Homo sapiens: one gene and its partners. The main gene of each other region encodes a partner of the protein of the gene in region 3 in a complex. Each region holds a gene or a part of one and is shown on either strand. Other genes may lie near its edges.

The links.
Region 1: STRN3 (region 3) and STK25 share a complex: the UniProt entries of both Homo sapiens proteins name them as parts of the core of STRIPAK complex.
Region 2: STRN3 (region 3) and STK24 share a complex: the UniProt entries of both Homo sapiens proteins name them as parts of the core of STRIPAK complex.

The regions. Positions count from the first base shown.
Region 1 is NC_000002.12:241,492,170-241,495,377, forward strand, and holds the end of STK25 (serine/threonine-protein kinase 25), read right to left. Parts: 3' UTR 1,957-3,208; coding exon of another isoform or gene 1,839-1,956; 3' UTR 1,280-1,838; coding exon of another isoform or gene 1,124-1,279; 3' UTR 868-1,123; coding exon of another isoform or gene 760-867; 3' UTR 501-759; downstream 1-500. Other genes in the region: FARP2 (FERM, ARHGEF and pleckstrin domain-containing protein 2), read left to right, coding at 760-867, 1,124-1,275, 1,839-1,956. UniProt on the Homo sapiens protein: Oxidant stress-activated serine/threonine kinase that may play a role in the response to environmental stress.
Region 2 is NC_000013.11:98,462,108-98,465,607, forward strand, and holds part of STK24 (serine/threonine-protein kinase 24 isoform b precursor), read right to left. Parts: intron 1,730-3,500; coding exon 1,584-1,729; intron 1-1,583. UniProt on the Homo sapiens protein: Serine/threonine-protein kinase that acts on both serine and threonine residues and promotes apoptosis in response to stress stimuli and caspase activation.
Region 3 is NC_000014.9:31,016,380-31,019,879, forward strand, and holds part of STRN3 (striatin-3), read right to left. Parts: intron 1-3,500. UniProt on the Homo sapiens protein: Calmodulin-binding scaffolding protein which is the center of the striatin-interacting phosphatase and kinase (STRIPAK) complexes.

The DNA of each region.
Region 1 (3,208 bases), on a different chromosome or scaffold from region 3:
CAGAGCTCTTGTCTTTTTTGCTGTCTCCCCATAATTCACCCCAGCCACAATCGGCTGGGCAGGGGCTCAGGAGCTACCCCAGCACCCCCGTGAGGGGGCTGAGCCCGAGCCTCTCCCCTGATGACCCTGGGTAGGTCAGGGTGCAGCAGGTCCCTGACCTGGGCCCACCAGCTTATGGCCAGTCCAGGACACCTGAGATCTAAGCAGGGTCCTAGCTAGGCCCGCTCCGCCATCTTAGAGTGCAACCCCTGAATACCACCCTGAAGGCGGGAGGCTCATGTGAGCCCCATGAGCCCAGCCACTCCAGCGCCAAAGCCATGCCTAATCCTGGCAGAACAGATGCCACATGCTTAGGGACAGGGCTGCAGTGGGGCATCTTGTGTGTGCCTTTACTTGCCTCTCCCCCACCCATCATTTTAAAGAACCTTCCAGACTTGGCTCAATGTACTGTCTCTTAAGGTATCTTCTCTCTTCTGGCTGTTGGATGGGTTTGTGGATGGTTGGTTACTGAACACTGACTTTATTGTGCACAGGGAAAGGGAACTCACTTTACTTGGTGCCTGGAATGTCACTCTAGGTTTTTAACATGCTTCTGTTGGACTTAAGTACTGATAAAGCTGCTGTTCATAGCAGTCCAGAGGTAAAACCAAGGCCTCAGCTGGAGAAAGCATGCAGAGGCTTAGTCTTGGGGAGCAAACCCACTCCCACAAGGGGTCCTGGGTGCTGGTTAATGCACCTGCATTTTTCCTTTATTGACAGAACCAGCTTTCAGGATATCTGCTAAGAAAGTTCAAAAACAGTCATGGCTGGCAGAAGCTCTGGGTCGTCTTTACCAACTTCTGTTTGTTCTTCTACAAAACTCATCAGGTACTGGAGTTTCACTGGAGCCCAATGCAGGTGATGCTAGCAGACAGACACTTAACCCTGCTCACCTGTGTCCCTTTTGTATTTTGGTTCTGCCCTCCCATGCTTTGCCCACACACCCTGTGCTGTGTGAACAGGGAAACTGGCTCCCTTGGCCCGTGGGCATTTGTACGTGCCACCGTTGTGCAGGTAGCAGAGGAATGGGCATTCCCTGTGGCAACCCAGCCCCTGGAACCCGTGTCCCTATGCTGTCTTGCAGGATGACTACCCACTGGCCAGCCTCCCGCTGCTGGGCTACAGCGTGAGCATCCCCAGGGAGGCCGATGGCATACACAAAGACTATGTTTTCAAGCTCCAGTTCAAATCCCACGTCTACTTCTTCCGGGCTGAGAGCAAGTACACATTTGAAAGGTAATTTTGCAGGAGGCAGCCCTGGTCAGCTGCCCATTTCGATGTCCGCTCAGCTCCCATTTCTACTCATGGTGGTGGAGGCAAGTTTTCTGGGCCCTGGAAAGGAAGGGCTGAGCAATGCTTCCAGCATTTCCAAAAAACAGCAATGCTTTGTTTTTTTTTTTTTTGGAGATGGCGTCTCCCTCTGTCACTCAGGCTGGAGTGCAGTGATACAATCTTGGCTCACTATAACCTGCACCTCCAGGGTTCAAGCGATTCTTCTGCCTCAGCCTCCTGAGTAACTGAGATTACAGGCATGCACGCCACGCCGCCTGGCTAATTTTTGTATTTTTAGTAGAGACAGGGTTTCACCATGTTGGCCAGGCTGGTCTCGAACTCCTGACCTCAAGTGATCCATCTGCCTCAGCCTCCCAAAGTGCTGGGATTATAGGCATGAGCCACCGCACCCGGCCCCAGGTTTTTAACCCTTCTTTTGTCCTGCTTGTCCCATATCCTGGGTTGTTCTTGGGACAGTGTCTGAGCACAAGATGGCTCACTGGTCTGATGGCCGCCCTCTCCTCCAGGTGGATGGAGGTGATCCAGGGGGCCAGCAGCTCAGCCGGGAGGGCCCCAAGCATCGTGCAGGATGGCCCCCAACCCTCCTCAGGGCTGGAGGGGATGGTCAGGGGGAAGGAGGAATGACGCTCAACCTGCCCAGGTTTGGACACAACTACAAAGAACAGCAGGACACAGAGGTGACCTCTGTCCTGAGGCTTCTCAACAGATGGGAAGTGGCTGTGGTCTCACTGGATCCCCACTGGCACCAGCAGTGTGGGTGGGCCTCATGTAACATCTGGGAGGGGCTTCATCCCCCCACCCAGGACCTAGTGCATGCCAGCAGCTATCTGGGGCCCTGGGAAAAATGTGCGAGTCTTGAGCGCGGAGCCGCTCAAGCCACAGCTCCCAGGCCCCTGGCTCAAAGACGCAGACAAGGCCTGAGCAGTGCTCTCGGCATCGGACCAAAGCCTGGGCACACCCTGCCTCTCTCCCCAGAGCAGGGTCCCTGCCGAGGACTGGCCTAGAGCAAGCACTGGAAAAGAGGCCCTGCCATACACCCTGCGTACCCACTGCCAGGACCCTCTCAGACAAGCGTGGCACAGCCATGCTGACCTTCCATCTGGTGAACCAAGTGGCAGCCCCAGGGGCCTGCCCTGCAGGTCACAGCTAAACAAGTCTGGCAGAAGCCACGCTTGTTCCCCATGTACCTCTAGAGAAGCAGAAACCAAAGTCCCCCTGTGCCCTGGGAGGGTGGGGCCGTCTAATTTATTACTGCCCAGCATTCCTTCCAACGGGAAGTAGATGGGCGACTGCTTTGTTCACACACATTTGATTAAAAATAAACAAACAGCATCTCCCCACCTGCATTCTCCTCTGCCTGCTCTGTTCTTCCGGTGGGCCAAGCAGAGCCCAGGAATCCGTCACAGGGAAGTTTCGAAGGGGGGCTGGGCTGCCGTCTCTGCGTGCTGTGATGAGGACTCGGGACCAGGGACGCTGCAGCCCCGCATGGCCCGGGCCCCACCACACACACCTGCATGTCTCCAAGTCAGGTCTTTATTGAAAGTGGCAGGGGCCTCTCAATGTTCTATGAAAACTAACATATTAACCTCAGAATATTTCAGGAAACAAGTAATTCAATTTTCTTAAAAAACAAAACATTCTGGATGACACAAGTACTTATGAGCAGACACAGTACCTGATCCAACACCACAAGGCAAATCTATGGCCATCATGGGCCCCGGGAGGACAGCGGCCAGGACACTCCTCTGGGGGCTGCCCTGTTGCCTCTCCCCACCTCATGGGAGGAGGAGGCAGAGCTGCCCTGATAGTTGCTCTGCGCCTTGGTCTGAGCGGCCATAGGGCTGCATGAGTCTGCAGAAGACCCAGGCGTAGCTCA
Region 2 (3,500 bases), on a different chromosome or scaffold from region 3:
TCCACAACTCCCTGGCGTGCCAGTGTGTGCATGCCCACCCTCCTCCTCCTCCCGGAGAACACCTCCCCCACCTCCCTGGGAGCCCATCTCTGGGACATCAGCTTCTCTCTGCTGGGCTCCTCCTCTCACCAGGGAAGCAGATGTCCCTGTGTTGGGTGTGGTGGCTCATGCCTGTCATTCCAACACTTTGGCCTCACCTTGGCCATCTCTCAGCCCTGGTTCTGGGATTCACACTCACTGCCTCTATTTGGTACCCTCCACTCGCTCCAAAGCCCACCCGTGTCCCTCCGAGCGCTCCCTCCCCCATCATGAGATGATGGTGTGCTGATCACTCCCTGTCCTGTATGGGCCTCAGAGGCAATGAGCCCCAGGCCCTGCTGATCATCCCCTGATGCCTGTGGCCCCATTAAGCCTGCACCTCCTCCCGCCCCTCGGCCATACCTCTCCCCTCTCACTCACAGGCGGAGCCTCACCCTCACACCTAGGGGCCAGCCTCACTCCCCCACATGCCCCAACTGACACCCTTTTTTCTCTCGGCTCAAGTGACCTCCACAGAGCAGTGGCCCCTAAGCCCGCTTCACCTGCCCAGCTTTCTCACCTGAACTCCACACCTCGGTGCCACTTCACACTGGACGTCTCTCCTGGACAACTCAGACTCACACACGGTTCACCCCACACTCGGCTTCCCGCACCACACATCACAACACCTGGTGCCACGCTGCCCCAGCCTGGAACATTGGCTTCCCTCCTTCACCCAAATCCACCGCCGCGTCCTGGCTCTCCAAACCTCTCTCCAGTCTCTTTCTCTTGTCATCCCTGTTGCTACCCCAGCAATCTCCCAATGGCAGTACCTCAAGAACTTCCGGGGGCAGTGGTCTCAACCTTGGCTTTAAACTGGAATCACCTAGAGACCCTGAAAAACCACTTAGGGTCTCATCCCCGGAAATCCTCATTCAACTGGCCTGGCACATGGACCTGCACTGTGGGCCAACTTTAACTTCTGCCAAGGCATGCACGAGAACAGACGAGTCCCACGCTCGGACTTCCAGACACAAGTCTGCCCGACCACCTCCCCCAGCCCTCCCCACACAAATGGCTCCAGCCCCACTCCGCCTCTTAAGCCAAGGGAATTCCTAGATGCCAAACTTGACAGCAATTCTCAGTAAGCCACTCCTGGTACAGAAGCTTCTACCAGACACAATACAGAATCACAAACACATGCATTTCTGGCCTTTCAGACATCCATGTAAAGCAGTTTCACCTGATCAGGGTTTTACAAACAGGAAGTTTAATGGAAAACAGAACAGAACAGAACGAAACAAAACAGAATGAAACAGCCAGGTCCAGTTCCCCATGCACAGCTCTACCACAAGAGTTCACTCGCAGAAACTCCACCAGCAACGTCAAGAGGCTAAACAACTCCCAAACAGGCCCAGGCTGTGTCTAACACAACAATTGCCACCAACCTGGATTGTCTAAAAAAAAAAAAAAACTCAACAGAAAACGAAACCCACACCAAACAGTGACAAAGACCAGCGGATCCCTCCCACACACATGCTTGGGTCACTCAGGGGCCGACTTACGCGTCGGAATCCTCGGAGCTCGAGTCGTCATGGCTCTGCTCGGCCTTCCATCTCTTGTACCTGTCGATGAGCTCGGTCAAGTAGGAAGTTTTCTTTGCATTGCGTAGTATAAACTTGTGCTTCAATAACTCCTTAGCAGTGGGTCTCTGGAAAAACACACCCAACAATTAAAGTATGAGATGAAGTTCTTGGTCCTACCCCAAAGGACAGACTTCTGCCTCAAAATGTCAACCGCCACACTGACACCTGATGGCTGGACTCTCTACTCCACAGCGCTTCTCACTGCAACTCACCCAAAGACGAGTCGCTCAGGACCTACGCCTGGGCTCTGGGTGCTATGGTGGGCAGGGCACTGTCTTTCCAAGGATGTCCCTAATAAATACATTTTCACAGAAAACTCTGCACAGAGCTTCACAGGGATCATTTAAGAGAGCTTAAATGATCTGGTCGGGCGCAGTGGCTCACGCCTGTAATCCCAGCACTTTCGGAGGCCGAGGCGGGCAGATCACGAGGTCAGGAGATCGAGACCACCCTGGCTAACATGGTGAAACCCCGTCTTTACTAAAAATACAAAAAAATTTAGCCGGGCGTGGTGGTGGGCGCCTGTAGTCCCAGCTACTCAGGAGGCTGAGGCAGGAGAATGGCGTGAACCCAGGAGGCGGAGCTTGCAGGGAGCCGAGATCGCGCCACTGCACTCCAGCCTGGGCGACAGAGCAAGACTCTGTCTCAAAAAAAAGCTTATCTCCTAGTTTATAAAATACTTTATGACAAATGCTGACAAAATATATGTTCTGTGTTGTTTAACTTTTTTTTTTTTTTTTTTTTGAGACAGTTTTGCTCTTGTTGCCCAGGCTGGAGTGCAGTGGCACGATTTCGGCTCACTACAACCTCGCCTCCCCAGTTCAAACGATTCTCCTGCCTCAGCCTCCTGGGTAGCTGGGATTACAGGCCTGCACCACCACACCAGGCTAATTTTTTGTATTTTTAGTAGAAACGGGATTTCACCATGTTAGCCAGGCTGGTCTTGAACTCCTGACCTCAGGTGATGCACCTGCCTCGGCCTCCCAAAGTGCTGGGATTACAGATGTGAGCCACCATGCTGGGCTGCTTTGTTAACTTTCTGTATTAACGTTTGGCCACATCCAACCATATAATAGAAATGTCAATTTGGAATTATCTCAGAGAAACTGGAAAGGAGCCAGGAGATCCCCTTTTTCCTGTCTGCTGAAAGAGCAACTGGATGCGCTTCACCACCAACTTTCCCGGTTTAGAAGGGCTATTTCCCAGGTCCCTCCCTCCCTTCCCTTGTGATTGGGCTGAGGACTTCACCCATGCCCTGGGCTCAGCATGGCCACCGCAAGCAGCACCTGGTCAGCTGCCTGCCTTGAGGATGGCGATAGTGACAGGGAATGTGCTTCCCAAGGAAACCAGCATGGCCCAAATGGGAACAGACAGCAGGAACACCCAAACACCGAGTCGAACCAAGTTCCCACTCACTCCAAATTACAAAAGCTTGATTACAAGAGCCAAGCATGTTTTCAGATTCAAACTCATGAGAAACGTGGATCACCTCAAGTATTCTCCCTCCCTGTCCATCCAAGGGTGAAACCCCAACTACCCCGGAGGTGCTCATATTCTCGCCTCTCAGCCAGCTCCTCGGTAGCTGTGGGGTGGAGCTCTGTGTGCTGGGGCATAAGCCCATACAGGACACATGCTTTGTATGGGAAGACATGCCTGCACACATCTCCACTGGTGCTGGTGCATGATGGCTGCAAGAAACATCATCGTGTAATAAAATGCAGAGCATCGTGGCATGCAGGACAAGCCCCACCACCACCCGATGCTGATGTAGTCATCAAACACTGGTGTGGTGGTCTCAGCCTGCATCTCCTTAGACGTACTTAGAAAATGTTGCAT
Region 3 (3,500 bases):
TCAACCCATAGAAAAGACAAGGAGAAGCCTTAAATACACTGCTACTAAGTGAAAAGGCTACATATTATACGATTCAAACTAAGGCAACCCTCTGTATCCAAGGGTTCCCCATTCACAGATTCAAACAATGGCAAGGCAAAAATATTCCAGAAAAATAATAAAAATATATATATATATATTTTGAGACAGAGTCTCGCTCTGTCGCCCAGGCTAGAGTGCAGTGGCGCGATCTCGACTCACTACAACCTCCGCCTCCCGGGTTAAAGCGATTCTCCTGCCCTCAGCTTCCCAAGTAGCTGGGATTACAGGCACGTGCCAGCACACCTGGCTAACTTTTATATTTTTAGTAGAAACGGCGTTTCACCATATTGGCCAGGCTGGTCTCAAACTCCTGACCTTGTGATCCACCCGCTTTGGCCTCCCAAAGTGCTGGGATTACAGTCATGAGCCACTGCGCCCAGCCAAAAAATAATTTTTAAAAATTATAGCAACTAGCCAGGTGCAGTAGCTGACACCTGTAATCCTAGCACTTTGGGAGGCCAAGGATGGCAGATAGCTTGAGCCCAGAAGCTCAAAACCAGCCTCAGCAACTTAGCAAAACTCTGTCTCTAGAAAAAATACAAAAATTAGCCAGGTGTGGTGGCGGGTGCCTGTAGTCCTAGCTACTCAGGAGGCTGAGGTGGGAGGATCACCTGAACCCAGAGATCAAGGCTGCAGTGAGCAGTGATTGTTTTACTGCACTCCAGCCTGGGTGACAGACTGAGACCCTGTCTCAAATAAAAAGTTTTAAAAAGTGTAACAACTATTTACATAGCATTTAGATTATATAAGTAATCTAGGCCGGGCGCAGTGGCTCACGCCTGTAATCCCAGCACTTTGGGAGGCCAAGGCAGGCAAATCACAAGGTCAGGAGATCGAGACCATCCTGGCTAACAAGGTGAAACCCCGTCTCTACTAAAAATACAAAAAATTAGCCGGGCGTGGTGGCGGGTGCCTGTAGTCCCACCTACTAGGGAGGCTGAGGCAGGAGAATGGCGTGAACCCAGGAGGCAGAGCTTGCAGTGAGCCGAGATCGCGCCACTGCACTCCACCCTGGGCGACGCAGCGAGACTCCGTCTCAAAAAAAAAAAAAAAGTAATCTAGAGATTTAAAATATACAGGAAGATGTGCATAAGTTACAAACTCATTGTATTGAGGGACTTGAGCATCTGAGGATTTTGTATCCTGGAGGAGAACCCCTGGAACAAATTTCCCCCAAGGATACCATGGGAAGGTATATGAATGTATTCTGGAAAAGGCAAAACTTTGGGGTAGGAGACTACTTGTACTTTCTGCTAAATTTTGCTGTGAACCTAAATTGTCTTATGAGGGGCAGTGAGTGTATACACACAAAAGCGAGCATACACAGTTATTTAGGCTGCGCACGGTGGCTCACACCTGAAATCCCAGCACTTTGGGAGGCCAAGGCGGGTGATCACTTGAGGTCAGGAGTTCAAGACCAGCCTGGCCAACATGGTGAAACCCCGTATCTACTAAAAATACAAAATAATTAGCTGGGCATGGTGGTGCATGCCTGTAATCCCAGCTACTCAAGGGGCTGAGGCAGGAGAATTGCTTGAACCTGGGAGGCGGAGGTTACAGTGAGCCGGGATTGCGCCCACTGCACTCCAGCCTGGGCAACAAAATGAAACCCTGCCTCAATTTAAAAAAAAAAAAAAAGGAAATTAATTTAAATAAATTTAAAACCATTTTGTTAAAAAAAAAAAACCTTAATAAAAATATATTTCAGGTCATGGGTAAAGAGTCTCTGTAGTCATGGCAACAGCCGAGGCAGGCTGCCTGCATACCAGCTACCAGTGATGGGGAGAAGCTGCCAGTCTACATCAGCCTGGGCCATAGTAAGCTGCTGCCACGGGGCCAGCAGGGTGGGCACCATGTTGCATTCATCTCTGTACCCCCAGCATCTAGCAGTGTTGGCATGTAGTGGGCACTCAAAGAAATGTGTGTTGAATGAACAATACCTGTGACAAGCAAGCGAACTTTATTCTTTCTCGACCCTTGTTCCTATGACACACCTCCTCCTGACTGTCACCGTCACTCCTTCAGAGCAGAGCTTCTCTAGGGAACTTGGATGCGAAACAACTATGGTAAAGGACATCCTGGCTGAAGAGGGACTGCACTTTGATGAGTTGAACAAGCTGTGGGTGTTGGACTCAGAGGTTACCCAGCAGACCACAGAGCTCAAAGAAGAGTGCAAGAACTTTGCGGACAAAACTGGCCAGTTTCAGAAAACAGTTGGTGGTTTAATTGAGCTTGTTGATAAACTTGCAAAAAAAGCGTAAAATGCGAAGATGAGGGCCATGGTGCTCCGAACTTGCTCAAATCAATAGCAAAGCAGAGAGAAGCTCAACAACTTCAGAACTCAGTAACTTCAAGCACTAATAGAATAAAAGAAAATTTAGGCAGGGCATAGTGGCTCACACCTGTAATCCCAGCATTTTGGGAGGCCAGGGTGGGCAGATCACCTGAGGTCGGGAGTTTGAGACCAGACTGGCCAATATGGTGAAACCCCATCCCTACTAAAATTCAAAAAATTAGTCGGGCATGGTGGCACACCTATAATCCCAGCTACTCTGGAGGCTGAGGCATGCCAGGCATAGTGGCTCATGCCTTTAATCCCAGCACTCCTGAGATGCCAAGGTAGGAGGACTACTTGAGGCCATGATCTCAAGACCAGCCTAGACAACATAGAAAGACCCTGTCTCTACTAAAAAAAAAATTAGCCAGGCGTGGTAGCACGTGCCTATAGTCCAAGCTATTTGGGAGGCTGAAGTGGGAGGACTATTTGAACCCAAGAGTTTTGAGGCTGCAGTGAGCTACGATCGCACCACTGCATTCCAGCCTGTGCAACATAGTGAGACCCTGTCTCTTAAAAATAAATAAAATAATAGAAAATAATAATTTGGAATGGACAATGAATGGATAGAAGTACAGGTAAAACAAGACTGATCATGAGTCGTTGCTGTTTAAGATGAGTGACACGTTTGTGGGAGGTCACAATACTATATTATTTTCTTACATGTTTGAAACTTTTCATAAAAAAATTAAAGGAGGGTTATATATAATACAATTGTCTTTATGATAAAAAGGATAAACTGTTAAGAGGGGCAATGGATGAAACAAACCTGTCAGGAGATTATCTCAAAGAATTCTGGCAGGAGGAGTACTCTGAACTAAGGCAGTATTAGTACAGAAACAAAAAGCACAGATTGAATCAGTTACTTCCTTAGATCAGCAGTCAGGCTTCATGGGCATTCTAAGCAAAATTTTCTTACCTTTTTTGAAAAAAAACTAGAAGAGGCTCCACAGCATTCATAATATATGCAAAGGGGACTATACAATCCCCCAAAAAATCAAGCATCAGTGAATTAGAATATACTTTAGGATACTGATGTTACCTATATTACTTAGCCTTTTGAATCATTATAGTCCAGTTCACT